Linked DNA regions of Homo sapiens: region 1 is linked to region 2. The links come from fine-mapping of genetic effects on plasma protein levels. Region 2 holds a variant in brackets. A gene starts in the other region. All regions are shown on their reverse strands. Region 1 holds the start of PLTP (phospholipid transfer protein). Region 2 has its middle 43 kb from the start of LIPC.

Evidence for each region. PIP is the chance, under the fine-mapping model, that this variant and not a neighbour inherited with it causes the effect. Protein levels are from antibody-based Olink assays in UK Biobank. Linkage for the fine-mapping came from a reference panel and not from the study's own genotypes, which makes the PIPs less certain.
Region 1: it holds the start of PLTP, and the variant in region 2 is fine-mapped to the plasma level of the PLTP protein (UK Biobank, PIP 0.98).

Annotation. Positions count from the first base shown.
Region 1 is chr20:45,909,502-45,914,874 of GRCh38, reverse strand. PLTP (phospholipid transfer protein) reads left to right here and starts at 2,720. Exons shown (of 16, transcript NM_006227.4): 1 at 2,720-2,796; 2 at 3,412-3,522; 3 at 3,624-3,723; 4 at 4,805-4,933; 5 at 5,204-5,359. The coding sequence starts at 3,423.
Region 2 is chr15:58,385,989-58,391,365 of GRCh38, reverse strand. No RefSeq gene overlaps it. Among named protein-coding and RNA genes, the nearest start is that of LIPC, 43 kb to the left of the region's middle. The variant C/A (reference allele first, on the strand shown) is at 2,922.

The DNA.
Region 1 (5,373 bases), not on the chromosome of region 2:
TTCCTCCTCTGGATACTCTTAACACTTTCTCTGTTCTCCCTCTACACCTTTTCTGCTTTGTTTGCTCGTGGTATGTGCCCCTAATTAAGATAGCTAGCATTTATTTGGCACTAATGATGTGTCATGTACCAGGCCCATTTATTCTTGCAATAACCTTAAATTATTGTTTCCATTTTAGGATGAGGAAATTGAAGATCTGAGTGCTTAAGCAAGGGATCAATGTCATACACCTAAGAACTGACAACCTGGGGTGTAAACTCTTGTCTGTCAGACACAAGAGTCTAAGTACATAACTACCGGGCTATAAAGCCCACCTTCCACTCTTCCATGAACAGTCTACGGATTCCCTAATAGCAGCCACAGAATTGCTTCAACCTCTACTTCCTGTTAAAGAGGGTTCATAATAGTGCCAGTCTGACAGGTTGTTAAGGTTAAATAAATTACCTAGAATTCGGATGACCAGTTGTAAGGTTTCCCAGGGACTGAGTGGGTTCCCAGGAATGGTTTCAAAATGGGGATGGCTGGATGTGTGGCTCACGCCTGTAATCCCAGCACTTTGGGAGCCCAAGGCAAGAGGATCACTTGGGTCCAGGAGTTCAAGATCAGCCTGGGCAACATGGTGAGACCTGTCTCTACAAAAAATACAAAACTTAGCTGGACATGACATGGTACCACCTGCCTGTAGTCCTAGCTACTCAGGAGGCTGAGGTGGGAAGATCGCTTGAGCCCAAGAGGTGGAGGCTTCAGTGAGCCGTGATTGTACCACTGCACTCCAGCCTGGGCAACAGAGCAAGACCCTGTCTCTAAAAATATAAATAGGCGGCCGGGCGCGGTGGCTCACGCCTGTAATCCCAGCACTTTGGGAGGCCAAGGCAGGTGGATTGCCTGAGGTCAGGCGTTCGAAACCAGCCTGGCCAACATAGCGAAACCATATCTCTACTAAAAATACAAAAAATTAGCTGAGCGTAGTGGTGGGTGCCTGTAATCCCAGCTACTTGGGAGGCTGAGGTAGGAGAATTGCTTGAACCTGGTAGGCGGAGGTTGCAGTGAGCCGAGATTGCGCCATTGCACTCCAGCCTGGGCAACAAGAGAGAAACTCCATCTTAAATAAATAAATAAAAATAAATAAATAGGCTGGGCATGGTGGGTCACACCTGTAATCCCAGCACTTTGGGAGGCTAAGGCAGGCGGATCACTTGAGGGCAGGAGTTCAAGACCAGCCTGGCCAAAATGGCAAAACCCTGTCTCCACTAAAAATACAAAAATTAGCCAGGTGTGGTGGCACATGGCTGTAGTCCCAGCTACTTGGGAGGCTGAGGCAGGAGAATCACTTGAACCCAGGAGGCAGAGGTTGCAGTGAGCCAAGATCACACCACCGCACTGCAGCCTGGTGACAGAGCACGACTGTGTCTCAAAAAAATTAATTAATTAATTAAATAAAAAAGGAAATGGAACTATTTTTGTGAATCTGTGGATTATATCAGAAAAAAAAGACACAATGGGGAAAGTCCTAGGCAAATCAGGATGAGTTAGTCATCCTTCCTAGATGAGTGTTTGGTGCTAAATACATGCTCAGCAGACATGATTATTGCTTCCCCTTTCTTTCGTCCATTTGGCAACAAAAAGGTGGCAAGCACCCACTCTGTGCCCTGTCCTAGGGTCCGGGAACCCTGTAAGCAGTAGATGGAGGTGGGGGTGGGGGTGGGGGCGGGGATGCTGTTCAGAGCACCTTGCTCCAAGGGTTCATTAAAAAATCCACCAGTGGACCGGGCGCGGTGGCTCATGCCTTTAATCCCAGCACTTTGGGAGGCCGAGGCGGGCGGATCACAAGGTCAGGAGATCGAGACCATCCTGGCTAACACGGTGAAACCCCGTCTCTACTAAAAATACAAAAAAAATTAGCCGGGCGTGGCAGCGTGCGCCTGTAGCCCCAGCTGCTGGGGAGGCTGAGGCAGGAGAATGGCGTGAACCCGGGAGGCGGGGCTTGCAGGGAGCCGAGATCGCGCCACTGCACTCCAGCCTGGGGGACAGAGCGAGACTCCGTCTCAAAAAATAAAAATAAAAAAAATAGAAAAAACAATCCACCAGCCACGATAAATGGCAGACCTCCTTCTGATTTCAGCCGGTGTGGTATGTTCCTGGGCTGACAGCACTTGTCTAGTCTTGCTTTCCCAAGTGGGAAAGGTCTCTGGGACCTTAAGGTCCCCAGGTGGTGACACAGAGACAGGTAGGGGGGCCCATAGCAAAGCCAGGCAAGGAGGTCCCGAGATGATTGTGGGTGGCAGGGAAAGAAAAAATATTCCTTGACTTTGTGCCTGGACCTGGTTGTAATAAAGGCCCAAGAGGTAGTTCCTATCATCGTGCACATTTCGCTGAAGGAAGAAACTGAGGGTCAGTGACCCAAGTGAAGTGACTTGCCCAAGATCATGCAGGAAGACATGGATAATTGTAATTTGAACCAAGGTCCCAGCAAAGTGGGATTGTTGGGGCTGAGTGGGCCGGCTCCTGCATTTCCTTCCCTCTCCCTGGGCTTGGGTCTCCCACTTGTCCAGACAGCGGCCGGGCTTGTCACGGGGCTCTGTGCAGCCTTTTCCACTCTCCCGGCTGCCAGCGTCCCGCCCCGTCCCCTCCCAGCCCCCAAGGGAGGAGGGGAGAGCTGCAGAGAGGAGGAGGGGTCGGGGAGGCCGGCTTTATAAAGGCGGCTGGAACAACCCTGCCCGCCAGACCCCGTCGCCCGGATCCCCTGAGCTGCCCGCCATCCCACGTGACCGCGCCGCCCCCCAGCTCCACCGCTGAGTGAGTTGGGGCGCGTCCCTATCCCGTTCCCAGTCCCTCGCCGAGCCGCGTGGTGCACTGAAGCCGGCGTGGGGAGGAGAGCCGATGAAGGAGAACGCTAACATGGGGGCTCCAGGCAGAATCTCTAATGGGAGAGATTTAGGACCTGAGGGAGCCGGGAGACCCGGGAGCCCACGGTCTGGTCGGCCACCTCCTCTCCTCCCCGGGCGCGAGGCCTAGGAGACCGCAAGCCACCCTCCAAGAATGCGCGTGCAGTCGTTGCCGTGGCAACGTGCAAGCCTGCATGGGCCCACCGCTAAAGGAAAGGGGAGGTTGTTGGGGGTGTGGGGGCTGGTCCCCTGGAGGTCCAAACTCATCACGCGGCGGTAGCACGAGGGAACTGGGAACGTCCCCTCCCCCGTGTCCCAAATCCTCTGGGAGCCAGAACGCAAGTCGCATCGCCTCTCTGAGCCTCAGTTTCCACATCTGCCATATGGAGGCAAGATTATTGGTTCCAAGTTCCCCGAAGAGTTATCTGGAGGGTAACGATCCAGGCTAGTTCCCACTTATGGTTGGACGTCCAAGGAATGGGTTTAAGCGGCTCAGATAACTCCTGCGACCCCACCCCACCCCCAGGCCCGCTCGCCATGGCCCTCTTCGGGGCCCTCTTCCTAGCGCTGCTGGCAGGCGCACATGCAGAGTTCCCAGGCTGCAAGATCCGCGTCACCTCCAAGGCGCTGGAGCTGGGTAAGGCGCAGGGGCAGACAGGGACGGACGGGAGCGGACGGGGTTGGGGTCGCCCCAACAGTGGGCACGGGAGCTAAGTAAGGGTTTCTCTGCTGCTTCAGTGAAGCAGGAGGGGCTGCGCTTTCTGGAGCAAGAGCTGGAGACTATCACCATTCCGGACCTGCGGGGCAAAGAAGGCCACTTCTACTACAACATCTCTGAGTAAGTGGGGGGCGGGGCCTCGCGATCCGGGGCGGGGCCTCGGCGGTGGAGGCGGGGCCCGAGAAATCTCAGGGTCTCGGGAGACTGGAGGCTGAGTGGGATGGGGCGTGGCCAAATCGATGAGGCAAGACTTAAGAAACCGGATGGGGCCGAAAAGATAAAGGCCAAGCCAGTCATCATAGGCGGGACCAGGCAGATGGGCGTGGCCTTGAAAATGTAGAGGGGGCCAAGAAGGAAGCAGGACCAGTGGATGTGAGGCGTGGTCGAAGAACAACAGAAAGGTGGAGTCAAGGAACTTCCCAATAGATGAGAGTGGAGTCTCGGGCACGGGGTGGAGTTAATCGGAGGGGTGGAGAAACTGAAGGCTCTAAGTATGGTTTAGGATGAGGGAGGGGGAATAAGGAATTGAGATGTGAGACGGAGCTTAGGTGATGGAGGCAAAGTGAACGGACTCTATTAAAAGACCGGGTGTAGCAACCCCAGGGTGTGGGAGGGGAGGGGGTGCAAGCAAACAAGACTTTTTTTTTTTTTTTTTCTGAGAGGGAGTCTTGTTCTGTTGCCCAGGCTAGAGTGCAGTGGCGCGATCTTGGCTCACTGCAACCTCCGCATCCCGAGTTCAAGCGATTTTCCTGCCTCAGCCTCCCGAGTAGCTAGGACTACAGGCGCGTGCCACCACGGTCTGCTAAGTTTTGTATTTTTGGTAGAGACGGGTTTCACTATGTTGGCCAGACTGGTCTCGAACTCCTGACCTCAAGTGATCCGCCCTCCTCGGCCTCCTAAAGTGCTGGGATTACAGGCATGAGCCACCACCGCACCTGGCAAACAAACAAACAAGACTTTTAAGCGATGGGGTGAAGCTCATTTTTAACACCTGGATCAGGAAGACCTCCTCTCTCAGCCACCCAAGTTCAACTTTGAGCCACCCAAGTCTAAGTTGGGCACTTGAGGGACAATGGAAGAATTCATTCCACCCACTCCCGCTTCCCCAGGCCTGGACTTGAAAGGGGAGCAGACAAATTTCCTGTCGTTGGGGGAAGTTCCCTCTTCTTGGCCCTGGATCTGACCCTGAGGCCTCCTGTAGGGTGAAGGTCACAGAGCTGCAACTGACATCTTCCGAGCTCGATTTCCAGCCACAGCAGGAGCTGATGCTTCAAATCACCAATGCCTCCTTGGGGCTGCGCTTCCGGAGACAGCTGCTCTACTGGTTCTTGTAAGGACCCAGCACCCTCAGGGGAGTGGAGAGTGGGTCAGGAGGGCTGGAGGTGCTGTGGGGCTGTGGGCAGCCCCCTTAGCCTTCCTGAGTTTCCGTTTCTTCATCTGTGTAACAGAAACAGGCATATGCATTTCATACGAGTTGATAGGAAGGTTTGGTAGGATGTGTGGAAAGAGGTGAAACCTTATTAAGAGGTATGGTGATGCATGGGGGCACTGAAGACTCAATTGAGCTCCTACCTGGAGTGAATATTAACCCCCCTGGCAGCTATGATGGGGGCTACATCAACGCCTCAGCTGAGGGTGTGTCCATCCGCACTGGTCTGGAGCTCTCCCGGGATCCCGCTGGACGGATGAAAGTGTCCAATGTCTCCTGCCAGGCCTCTGTCTCCAGAATGCACGCGGCCTTCGGGGGAACCTTCAAGTAAGCCCCAGCCC
Region 2 (5,377 bases):
ATCTACCATGACCCAGTCGTGACCATCAAAATGTGTCTGGACATTGCCAAATGTCCCCCCGAGGGCAAAGTTGCCCTGATTGAGAAACACTGTTCTGGATATGTGGGAGAACACAGGGAAAACTCCGGATGGTGTTTCTACTGCTAAGGGTCTCGTAGTGTACTTAGGAGTCAATATTAACCGTCATGAATCAATACGTGGTCAGTTAAGTACTAACTTGTGAAATATACTGCAATCTAATTTTTAGCTAATCTTGTAATTTTCTTTTTTGAGGGAGGGGTAGACAGAAATGGAAGCAAACTCTATTAGAAAAAGAAGATTGCTTTCATTGGGGAAGGAGAAGCATGTGGAATATTGAAGGAAGAAGAATTGTAGTTACTCTATCCGGTTTGTCCTGGATAAGTGCAATTCTTCAGAAGTTATTACTTTTTGAGTATTGAGAGATACGTTAATGGGAGAAAAATCACCCATATATCTCAGCTCTACTGACTTACTCTAGTGAGCAACAAATCTTCTGTTTAATTCCGTTTATAAATTCAACTTGAGTCCTGATCGTTTTGAGGAATTAAACGGTTCTTCAAGTGAATCCATAACCCAGTGTTGCCCTGGACATATTTAATAGCAGATTCTGGGTGTGTAAGATTAAGAGACACAATCCTTCAGTCTTTTCCCAAACAGTTTTATTACTAAAATGATTCATGCACTGGAAGTCATTGAAATTGATCAGTGGTGATTTATATTCCTGGCAGACAGTGCTTTTGAGGTTCTTTTCCTTAGTTGTGAAGTGTCAGTTGTCCAATGAAAGTTGCCAGTTGTTCAATGAAAATTTTGTCCCATTCTATAAGAAATTCACAATCCCAAAAACATTCTAAAGCCTGCAGAGAGCTGAGAGGTGACTCTGGATGCTGGTTTCAGCGAGCTGTACGTGGCTGAATATATAATGCAATAAAGCTAATCTGAGACACAATGTGACAATCAGTAGCAATTCAATGTGTGCTGAATGAAAGATTTAATATTAGCTTAGTGTTGCGACAAGATGCAAGACACAAGTCAATTTAGGGATGGAAGCCTTTCAACTGGATTTAGCAATCATCCAAAACTGGTTGCTGGATCTGGCAGAACTCAAACTTGGGCTCCAGCACCTCCACTCTCCTAGTGTCCATTGTCATTTGTGAAGTGGGGCTGATGTAAGTTAAAAGAGTTTATTTCTGCCTTAGCAAGTTACAGAGCTGTTGGACTGGAAGGGAGTTGGGAGTTACCTGGTTGAACTCCTCATTTTGTGAGCAAGGAATTGCAGGTCAAGAGTGATGATACAATGATTATAATTAAAAAATTAACATACACAGAGTGTTATTGTTTGCTAGATACTCCACTGAGTGCTGTACAGACATCGTCTCACTTTATCCCTAGGAAGTGGAACTATTATGAGCCCATTGTTACAGATGAGGAAACTGATGATCAGAAATTTTAGTCACTTGCCCAAAGTCACACTAAAAGTTAAGAGCTGACAGTATTCAATCCCAGGATTCTTCTTCATGCTCTCTTGACTTTGCCACTGGGGTTTCTCATTGTAAAGCCTCTTTCACTCTTTCTCTGCCTTCTTTCCTCCTTCCCTCAACACAAGGGCACTGAACACTTCAGCTGGATCAGGGTCTGGGAAAGCAGCTTCCTGCATTCCAGAGCTAATAGTGCAGTGTGGGAGGCAAATCCAGGACAGAGGAATGCAGCAGTTCATGTTTGTCAGCTCCAGTCTTTCTCAGAAGAAGCATGTCCAGCACTTTGGGAGGCCGAGGCGGGCGGGTCACAAGGTCAGGAGATCGAGACCATCCTGGCTAACATGGTGAAACCCCGTCTCTACTGAAAATACAAAAAATTAGCAGGGCGTGGTGGCGGGTGCCTGCAGTCCCAGCTACTTGGGAGGCTGAGGCAGGAGAATCACTTGAACCTAGGAGGCGGAGATTGTCGTGAGCCGAGATAGCGCCACTGCACTCCAGCCTGGGTGACAGAGTGAGAATCCGTCTCAAAAAAAAACCCAAACGCACAAACAAAAAAACCCAAAACAGCAGCATATAAGGAAGGGAGCCCTGAACCTAGGGCCTAGGACAAGCTCTGGTGCCTCTGAGGCCTGTCTGAGCAGGCCAAAGGGCCAGGCTGACCAAGGACGCTGCCACTGGGGTGAACCTTGTCCCTGTGATTTCTCTTTGGGTGGACTGAAAGTCATGGATGTGGGCAGCTGAGGTGATCCTGTAGAGAAATGAGTTTAGTTACTCTGAACAGTACAGAGAGCCTTTGTTGAGTTTAGGAAGGGATGAAATGGCACAGAAGGAAGGCCCCTATCATGTGGCCTCCGAGGTGGGGTGGTAGAAACTTGTGTGGGTACCAGGGACTGGGCTTTACTGGGACACGGGTATTCCTGTTCTGTGACTGTCCTTCCACTTGCCCTCTGCCCCCCACCATCAAGCTGTGCACCTTCAGTGAGCAGTAGTGGCGTCTTCTTCCTTTAATCCAAAATGCCGAGATGGTGCCTGGGCTTTCTGAGGTACTCAGTGGAGATTTGTTGAGTAATTGGGAGATCCTTGGTCTTACAGTGTCCAGAAATTGAACATTGTGAGGTATATTTAGAGTATCTGGCTGGTGGGGAGAAATAGGGTGAAGCAAGCCCATATGCTATATAAACAAAATGACTCTATGTCCCAGACTTTTTGGAACAAACAGGTTTCAAATATTCCCTCTGTTTTCCCCAAAAGTACATTCGTATCCGTTTGACCGTGTGCTCTCGTATTTTGGTTCAGAAAATATGAATTGCACAGCAAAGATGACAATTTGTTATCTCCCAGTGGCTGGACTATTGATGTCTGTTTTTTCTCAGGTATCCGGAGGCTTGAGACCCTGAGTAAGCCATTACAAGGCTGTGTGGTGAG[C/A]AAGAACGCAGTAGAGCTGTCGGCTGATTTATTTAATATCTTGTTCTGGCCTATTTCTGATACATGGGTTTATCTGTCTGGGTTCTGTAGAGAAACAGAGCAGTAGGTTGTATTTCAAGGAATTCGCTCATGGAGTTGTGGAGGTTGGTAAGTCTGAAACTTGTAAGGTAGGCTGGCTGGCTGGAAAGTCTCAGGCAGCAGTGAATGTTGTAGTCTTGAGGGAGAATTTTTTCTTCCTCAGGGTAACGTGTTTTACTCTTAAGACCTTTCAACCGATTGGATGAGGGTAATCTCCCAACTATGTACCCAACTGTATTATCGAGGGTAATCTCCTTTACTTAAAGTCAACTGATCGTAGATGTTAACCATATCTACAAAATCCCTTCACATCAACACTCACATTAGTGTTTCATCAAATAGCTGGACATGATAGCCTAGCCAAGTTGGCACGTAAAACTAGCCATCACAGTGGGCAAAATTAGGACTGCCCACAACTCGTCCCTAGAGGACCATACGAGGCACAATAGTGGATCTGGACATATCCTAGTAAATGTGGCAGCAGGATTACCCTCATAAACTTCTGTTCTCTTCCCAAAGAGAAGCATCCATAGCCCAGTTGACCTGCTTGTTAAACCCCAAGGGTTAAGTGAGCAAATATCTGGGAAGTTCCCCTTTAAGGGGACTGCTGCTCTATTTTCCAGGAGAGAGGTGTTGGAGTAACTCCTCCCCATTCTCTTCAACCTCTCCTTCCTCTCCCATGGGAAGGGGGTCCTGATCTGATTGGTGTTAGAAGGGGCAATCTACTATGGGCCCTGAGCATCTCTACATGTTCTTCTGTGTATGCCACGAATGTAAGACTGTGAGTACTCTTTCCCAAGTCTGCATTTTCAGCAGCAACCTTCAGAGAGAAGGTAACATCTCTCTCTGGACACAGAGCAGGCTTTGCCTCCACCTGCTATAAAAGCAGTGAACCACCCAAGTAGAGACTTTCTTGTAACACAACTCTCTGCATGTTCAGGGTTCATCTAGGACCACGTATATTTTCCCTATGGGACCTAGTGAGAGAAAATGGGAAATTGGTGTGACCATCAAACTAATAGTTTGGCTACGGCATTTGCTGTGAGTAATACACTCATGTGTCTCTGACTCAGGAGTCTTATGTATTTTGCCAGCATCCAAAAAACAGTTACAAGCTCCTTGTTAGCTTGCAAGTAGGCTACAGTCTCAGACCCTTCACAATTCTTGACAGCAAGAGGCCTTGATTCCCTGCAGGTGACAATATTTGTTCTATACTCCCAGCTTTACCATCCTCTCCATGCAAAGCAAGCTAGCTGAGTGGGATCTGTCCTAGAGACCAAACTCTCCCTACTTCAAGATCTCATTGAGGCAAGAAATAGTAAAAACTGTTTTTGCTTCCACTCTATTATTAAGAAAGCTGATGTTTTGATTCTCAACTGGTTTAGAATCTGGAAGGGATAAGAGGAGAACATCTAGGCTCTTCCAGAAACCCCAACAAGCATGGTATGTCAGGTGGTATGCTAGGATCTGGGGGTGCCAAAGAGAAAAAAGAAATGTCCCTGCTCTCTTAGAGCTTGTAGTTTAATGGGGATGCGACTGGGGGTTGCACAGATATTAAGATAATTACAGTGTACCGAAGAAGGCTGTTTGCTGCTTGCTGGCCATCTCTTTCTACTAACATTTTTTTCTTTCTAATAACTCTCTAAAGTCACATTTTAATAATCTTGATTTGATTTAGCTGATTCCTAAGTTTGTAACAGCAACTCGTTTACAAACTAGCTCTTGGGAAGAGTTATTTCTACAAGGTTAAGCTCATGATTCTATGTCGATTTGTACCAAGTTCATTCACAGGGACTGACTTATCTTGATAATTTTGGAGCCGTTTATGTTTTGATATTACCTTATATAATAATCCAGTGAAACAGAATGCAATATTAAAATTTAAGTGATAATGTGAATATTTAAATTACATTAAAGTAAGTAATGCATACACTAGATCTTTAAGTTCAGTCGTAAATTCTACTTTCATTGTATTTTTTAGCAAATAACACTCAAATGAAGTGGAAACTCTGGAACCCATAGGTCAATCTTTCAGTGCATCCACCCATGAAATGTTGCAAGTCTGCCCGTCACTGTGCCAGGCATTAGGGTTATAGGGTAACTGAGAATTTACTTTTCAAATAGTCTAGTCTCTGGCTAGGCATGGTAGCTCACATCAGCACTTTGGAGGGCCAAGGTGGGCAGATCACTTGAGGTCAGGAGTTTGAGACCAGCTTGGCCAACATAGTGAAACCTCGTCTCTACTGAAAAAAAAGAAAAAATTTCAAATGCTCTAGTCTCCTAAAGGGAGAAATGTAATCCAATCACACATTTGGAGAGGTTTGATTCGTACTTACTGACTAGTTGCTAATGCAATAGCCCTCAAGGTTATAGCAGTC